2 linked regions of the Homo sapiens genome follow. The protein of the gene in region 2 purifies or fractionates together with the protein of the main gene of each other region. This does not show direct contact. Each region holds a gene or a part of one and is shown on either strand. Other genes may lie near its edges.

The links.
Region 1: the proteins of CTNNBIP1 (region 2) and CDH5 purify together in Homo sapiens (co-immunoprecipitation; one study listed by IntAct). This does not show direct contact.

What each region holds. Positions count from the first base shown.
Region 1 is NC_000016.10:66,390,375-66,394,192, reverse strand, and holds part of CDH5 (cadherin-5 preproprotein), read right to left. Parts: intron 3,818-3,818; coding exon of another isoform or gene 3,791-3,817; coding exon 3,603-3,790; intron 2,058-3,602; coding exon 1,810-2,057; intron 1-1,809. UniProt on the Homo sapiens protein: Cadherins are calcium-dependent cell adhesion proteins. They preferentially interact with themselves in a homophilic manner in connecting cells; cadherins may thus contribute to the sorting of heterogeneous cell types.
Region 2 is NC_000001.11:9,864,954-9,868,771, forward strand, and holds part of CTNNBIP1 (beta-catenin-interacting protein 1), read right to left. Parts: intron 1-3,818. UniProt on the Homo sapiens protein: Prevents the interaction between CTNNB1 and TCF family members, and acts as a negative regulator of the Wnt signaling pathway.

The sequences.
Region 1 (3,818 bases), on a different chromosome or scaffold from region 2:
CCATAATGAAGGTAAAATAGTTGCAAACCTTTGTTAACTGAATAGAAAAATTTAAATACATAAAGTCAAAACTTAGATATTCTAGGAAGAAGTGGACACAAATACAATTGTATCACATCACAGAACAAGCTAAAGCAAAACAAAAAAAACACCCTATGACTTATAAATGAAAATAAAGAAATCAAGTCAATCTCTTAAATAAACCCTTGGATCAAAGGAGAAACAAAAATTATAATTACAGGCTATTTAGAAAAGAATGGCAATGAAGAGTAGTCCCAAAACTTAGGATATGAGGCCAAAATGGAAGAACATATTTTGTCCTTAATAAGAAGACTTAATACCCTTGAAACATTAGCTATACCAAAATTAATATATAAACACTAGAATTCTAATGTTTAAAAAACCTGGATACAAAATTTTAAATTTCACAAAAGAAAAAATGAGAGTTGACAAAAAATTATATCAAATAAAAAAGCAACATGGGAAGGACTTTTATGTATATCTAAGATCTAGTGTAAAGCTATATGGTTTGGATCTGTGTCCCCACCGAATCTCATGTTGAAATGTAATCCCCAGTGTTGGAGGTGGGCCCTGGTGGGAGGTGGATAGACCATGGGACAGAGTTCTCATGAATGGGTTAGCTCCATCCCCTAGGTTCTGTTCTCAAGCTAGTGAGTTATCATGAGACCAGGTTGTTGAAAAGTGTGTAACAACTCCCTTCCCACTCCTGTTCTGGCCGTGTAAGACGTGCCTGCTTCCCCAGGACTGTAAGTTTTCTGAGGCCTCCCCAGAAGGAGAAGCCACTATACTTCCTGTTAAACCTCTTTTCTTTATAAATTACCCAGTCTTAACTATTTCTTTATAGGAGAATGGACTTATACAAGCTAGTAGAATAAAACAGAATAGCTTTGCTATAGAATGATGGATAGGACAGAGAATTAGAAGTAGATACAGGTATATACAGAAAACTTAGTATATAATGAAGGTGGGAAAACGATGACTTATTATTATAATATTTAGTAAATGGTGCTGGCAAAATCAGCTATGCATCTACAATAAAATAAGATTGAATTGAATTTATACTTACTATTGCATATTATATGGCTCTAAAAAGTATCTGTTGGAACTATATCATTTTTTTCTAAAGATTGTAAAAGAGAAATTTAGTTAAGATAGAAGAGCAAATATCGATGAAACCAGCATGGCATGATCCAAAAAAATTTTAAAACAATCAAACATCAAAAGCAAACAGACAACAACAAACCCACCATAAATGCATCCACATGTTTGTGTGGTCACGAAAAGAAAGGAGCAATAGGACCAGGTTAGGCCACGAACATGAGTTATCTGAGAGTGGGGGTTATCAGTGTTTTCTTGGTAGATCTCTGTGTTGTTTCACTGTATAAAATGAACACTTCTTACTTTTGTGGTTTGGGGAAGATAGATTCAAGAATACAGTTTTAGTGAAGGGGCCTCTGGTGTGTCGTCTGATTGGTTGCTTTCTTGACTGTCAGATCTTACCACATAGGACTGGTGAGAGCTGTGGTGCAGAGAATAAGCCTTCAAGGCCGGACAGAGGACAAGTAGCTCTGGATGCCCAGGACCATGCTAGGTGGGGGAGTCCAGGCAGGTCAAGATGCCAGGCTGCCAAGTGCAAGAGCTTGGGCTTCTGGTCTTGCCTCTGTCACTTTCCCTGTAAGTGCTAGGAGAAGCCAGTTCCCCTCTCTGAGTCCTGGCCTCAGACCAGCAGGCATAGGAACATCCAGGCCGGATTGTCCTTATCATTCTCATCGACACACGCCCCCTTACCCAATGCTATGCCTAGCCGCATCAGGGTCCATGGCCAGCACTGTGCCAATCAGAGGCTTCTTCTGGTTTTCCTTCAGCTGGAAGTGGTAGAAAGGCTGCTGGAAAATGGGGGGCTCGTCCACATCTGTGATGTTGATAATGACCTGGGCTCTGTTTCCCGCGGGAGGGCTCATGTATCGGAGGTCGATGGTGGGGTCTGTGGCCTCGACGATGAAGCTGTATTGCTGGATGTATTCATAATCCAGAGGCTGCGTAAGGAAAAAGGATGGTGAGTGCCTGCTCTGGGCCAAGCATGTGTGTGGCACATGATCTGCACAGCAACTATGCAAGGTAGTACCAGGATGACACCCATTTTATAGATGAGGGGCCCATGGCCTCGACAAGTGATATTTCTGAGGTCATCAAGACAGCGGCTGGGCCTGGTGTCTGTCTTCAGCTGCTCCCCATTTCATCTCAGCAGCCTCATGGCCACACCCACAACCCTGGCTGTGTGCCTGGCCCTATTTCCAGCGTTTGGGACATAGAATGGATCAACTATGGTCCTGCTCTTAAGAGCGTCACTAGTGGTTCTACCCACAGGTCCTTAAGGACAGGCTTTTTCTTTGTTCTTGAGACAGAATATTGCTCTTGGTACCCAGATTGGAGTGCAATGGCACGACCTCCGCTCACTACAACTTCCACCTCCCAGGTTCAAGCGATTCTCCTGCCTCAGCCTTCCAAGTAGCTGGGATTACAGGCACCTGCCACCACGCCCAGCTAATTTTGGTATTTTTAGTAGAGACGGGGTTTCACCATATTGGCCAGGCTGGTCTCAAACTCCTGACCTCAGGTGATCCACCTGCCTCGGCCTCACAAAGTGCTGGGATTAGAGGCGTGAACCACCGGGCCCGGCCGGACATGCTTTTTCTTTATGCCTTTGCTCAAGATCCTTCTCCTGCCCTTGCCTGCCTAGAAAACTCCTACTCATCCCTCAGGAAGCCAAGCAGAAGGTAATCAGATGCTCTCTCAGAAACCCCTCCTAGCAGAGGTAATTGCTCCCTGTTCAGAGCTGCTGTGTATCACTTACACCTGGCTGTACTTTTTTTGTTCATGCATATGTCTTCCCCATTCGCTGAGACCTTTGCTGACACTGGAGGCTGTGTCTGCCTCTCCTTGGTGTTTCCAAGCCCCAGCATGGGGCTGGTTCAGAGAAGGACTCAGGCCCAGGACTTGCAATCCTCTGCATGGCCATTCCAGAGGCATTTTTTATGCCCCTCACAGGACCTCTCCCTCCTCTTCCAGATTCAGTTAATCTGGCTTCTCTGGCTGTCAGCAGCATCCAGTGTCAGTGGCCATCCATGTCACCACAATTACTCACTGTTTTCTTCATGCTGATGGATTTCTACTGGCCAGGACACATGGCAGGCCAGAAAGTGCCAGAGAGGTAATAACTCCAGGGGCAGCCCCCAGTCAACACCACGGACAGCGGGTGTATAAATACCCCAGCTCCTTCACCCTCAGCTTCTCCAACTCTGGGATGTGTTCCACACTTACCCCGCAGTGGGTCATTGCTCCTGGGGCTTCCTGGGATCACCTCCCAGATAAACAATTTACACCCAGTCATGGCCTTAAGATTTGCTTCCCAAGTAACTCGGCCTAAGACACTGGATCACAGTCTCCATGAACACATGACCACCTTGGAGCTTTGATGGTCCTTTGATGGTCTCTGGCCCAGGAGCAATCCCCAAGCAGGACCTGTGGGTGCCAAGAGCCCCAAGCCTCACGTTTGACATTGTTGCCATTGGCCTACAAACCTTCATGGGCTTGATGATGCCCTCGTTGTGGGCGGGGTTTGTCTCAATGGTGAAAGCGTCCTGGTAGTCGCCCCGCAAGATGCTGTACTTGGTCATCCGGTTCTGGGGCTCATCTGGGTCCTCAACAAACAGAGAGCCCACAGAGGTGCCCACACGGGTGTCTTCAGGCACGACAAATGTGTACTTGGCTGATGCAAACAGAGCACCCCAAAGGGC
Region 2 (3,818 bases):
CGCAGTGGCTCATGCCTATAATCCCAGCACCTTGGGAGGCCAAGGTGGGCAGATCACGTGAGGTCAGGAGTTTGAGACAAATCTGGCCAACATGGTGAAACCCCATCCCTACTAAATATACAAAAATTAGCTGGGCATGGTGACATGCACCTGTAATCCCAGCTACCTGGGAGGCTAAGGCAAGAGAATTGCTTGAACCTGTGAGGTGGAGGTTGCAGTGAGCCAAGATAGCACCACTGCACTCCAGCCTGGGCAACAGAGTGAGACTCTGTCTCAAAAAAAAAAAAAAAAGTTTTATTGGAAATTATTTAAGAACACAGTGAAATTATCATGCGTAAAAAATGGATGTTAAAAATGGGTATTAAGGCCGGGCGCGGTGGCTCACGCCTGTAATCCCAGCACTTTGGGGGGCCGAAGCAGGTGGATCACGAGGTCAGGAGATTGAGACCATCCTGGCTAACACGGTGAAACCCCGTCTCTACTAAAAAAATATATAAAAAATTAGCCAGGCGTGGTGGCGGGCGCCTGTAGTCCCAGCTACTCAGGAAGCTGAGGCAGGAGAATGGCATGAACCCGGGAGGTGGAGTTTGCAGTGAGCCGAGACCGCACCATTGCACTCCAGCCTGGGTGACAGAGCGAGACTCTGTCTCAAAAAACAAAACAAAACAAAAAAACAACAAGAAAAAAAAACAGGTATTAAAATGTTTATGGTCCCAGCCTTGTGCTACAGATGTATGCATGTTTGTGAAAGGATGACAGGGAACTTAACAAAGGGTAAGAGTGATTACAGCTATGCAGTAGGATTCAATATTTCAAACTTTTCTGCTCTTTCTCCCTTTCCCCAGTTTTTTAAAATGACTATGCACAATTCTATAACTGGGAAAAAAATCACTACGCATTAGAGGGAGCCACACTGACCATGAGAGAAGCCTGGACTCAGCACTCCACAGGCCTGCTTCAGGAAGCTCTGGACCTCCCCATTCCTGCAGCTGCCCCTTCCCAGCAGGGCGACCTTCCTGAGAAGTACTGACTTCCTCTGGTTCAAAGCCAAGTCTCTCTGGTTTCCAGGTCTGCTTAGACACCCTTGGGGACTAGAACCCAGTTCATTTATTTGTCCAAACATGACAAACAATAAGATGGAAGCCACAGTTCCAAGCTCAAGGAGCTCAGAGCCCGGTCAATAGATGGATTAGGAGACAGTGTGGGTGTAGCACAGCTGAGGTACATGCACATGTGACAGGAGGGCCTGGCCCAGGTTGCAGGGGGCAGGGGAGTAAGGTGGGGGTGAAGGCTGGTTCCTGGCGGCCAAGAGGCAAATGCAGTGGCAGAAAGGCATGAACATGGCCATTCACTATGGCCCTTTACAGTGTGAGGTCAGGTCTTGCTCACCAAGCTAAAGGGGCTGGATTTTATCCTCAAGGCAGTGGGGAGCCACTGAATGATTTTAAGTTGGGTGGAGGCTGGGCATGGTGGCTCCCGCCTGTAATCCCAGCACTTTGGGAGGCCAAGGTGTATGGATCACCTGAAGTCAGGAGTTTGAGACCAGCCCGGGCAACATGGTGAAACCCCGTCTCTAATCAGCTGGGTGTGGTGGCGGGAGCCTGTAACCCCAGCTACTCGGGAGGCTGAGGCAGGAGAATTGCTTGAACTGGGAAGGTGGGGGCTGCAGTGAGCCGAGATCACGCCACTGCACTCCAGCCTGGGTGACAGAACAAAACTCCTTCTCAAAAAAAAAAAAAAAAGTCGAGTAGAGACCCACTAATGTCACTCTAAGCCTCCAAAAGTCTCTCCAGCTGTGGGGGTAGAGAGCAGACCTGAGGGGGCAAGATGGGAAGTCGAGATGCCAGATAGGAGTGATCTGAAGCTGTGAGACAAGAGTGAATATGGGCTCAGTCCAAGAGGGGGCTGGAAATGAGAGGGAGAGAATGAAGCAGGTCTGGGGAGCCTTAGGATGGACTCAGTAACCCATTAGGTTCCTGAGGAAGAGAGGAGTCGAGGCTGAGTCCTCGGGCGCCGTGTACTTGCTGGGCATTGGTCAGGGCAGAGCACAGGTGGAAAATCCATGTCAGCTGGGCATGGGTGGCTGTGGTGATGCTGGCCAACAGTCAGCTGGCTATGTTCTCTGTTGAGATCACAGCACTGCGTGTGGAACAGGGAGAAGAGAGGGGGCAACCCTGGAGGATGACAGCCCTGATTGAGGGAAGGGAGTGGGAAACAGCCAGTGAGGGGTGACGTGAAGGACAAGGGAGGGAAAGGAGGCTGTCATTGGTGGTCTCAGCCCAGCAGAGGCCAGGCAGGCTGGGAACTGGGGGGCCACTGGGGCCTCTGCTGGAACCACCTGGTGAGCCCGTAAGGGGAGGCCCCCACCCCAGGGTCTCCAGCACCTGCCTGGCTCCCCATAGATACTCAACAAATGTGACCGAGGAAGGAATCGAAGGGTAGGGGGTAAAGGGGTGCCCACGGCCCCCTCCCTGGGCCTCAAGTAAGGGAGCAGTGCCCCAGGTACCAGACCCATCCAGCCCTGGAGGGGAAGCATGTGCAGGGCTAAAGGTGGCGGCCAGACCCTCAGGACCAAGGTCGGGTGCTGTCCGTTGGAGGGTCTGCCTCAGACCCCCTGCTAGAGGAGTCCCGGGGTAGATGGAGCCTCCTCTGGCTCAGGGAACACCTAAAGCAGCCTGGAGCATTTGCTGAGAGACAGCGCCACCTAGTGGGCAGGAGGTGCACGCCAGGCCATTACCCACAGGCTCCAGGCCTTTGGGGTTCATTATGGCAGTCTCTGCACCCTGCTCTGGCCCCCGCATCCTGCCCCAGTCCCTGGAGACAACAATCCAGGGCTTCTTCCACCTAAGCAGTGTCTGAGCCTCTGACAGCAGGATCCTGCAGCATCAGCTGAGATTGGCTCTGCGATGGAGAAGGTGGGCAGGTGAGATTTTAACAGAGATCCATTTGCCCACATGGCACAGGCAGATGCAGGGTCCTGCCCTCACATGGGTAAGCCCAGTATGGGACTGGGCTGATTGCAGTTCTGCTGTTATTGTTGTTGTGTTTGTTTGTGGTGTCGTTAGGCTCGCAAAGAAAATAAATATGCTTATGAAACTCTTCCAGACATGGCTGACCCCTCCCCTCTCCACTCCCAGTCCACAGAATTCTCAGAACCTCCTGCAGCTCAGGTCTGTGTGGCTCAGGCCCCGGCAGCCAGGTTAGAGGTATCTTTATGGAGGTAGGGGCAGTCCACAGGGCGCCCCAGCAGCAGGGAGTGACTCCCACCACCTATTCCGCAACGATTCCCTGGGGTCTTCCCTGGCTCCAGCTTCAGCTCCAGAAGACCCCTCCCCGGAGAAAGAAGTAGCTGTGGACAGACACCACCCACCCAGAAGGGCCTGGACTCCACGGCCCACACAGTTGGTCACAGCTGCCAGCTTGCTCCTACTGCTCAGCAGTTTCAGGGCAAGGTCAACAGCTAAGTGGGGTCACTGACCTTCCTCAACAACTTGGCAGAGCTCATTTTTATTCTTAACTGTGGGTTCGGCTAGGCAAGAGTTCTCCTAAAAATATTTTTTTTAACTTTCCCTTATGACAAAGAAACAAATGTACAATGTTAAAATATTAGTTTTACAAAAATGTGTGACTTGGAAAGTTAAAGTTTCTTATATAGTCCTATCCCCTAACAATTATTATTATTATTATTTTTTGAGACAGAGTCTAGCTCTGTTGCCCAGGCTGGAGTAAAGTGGTGTGATCTTGGCTCATCGCAAGCTCCGCCTCCCAGATTCAAGCGGTTCTCCTGCCTTAATCTCCCAAGTAGCTGGGTAGCTGGG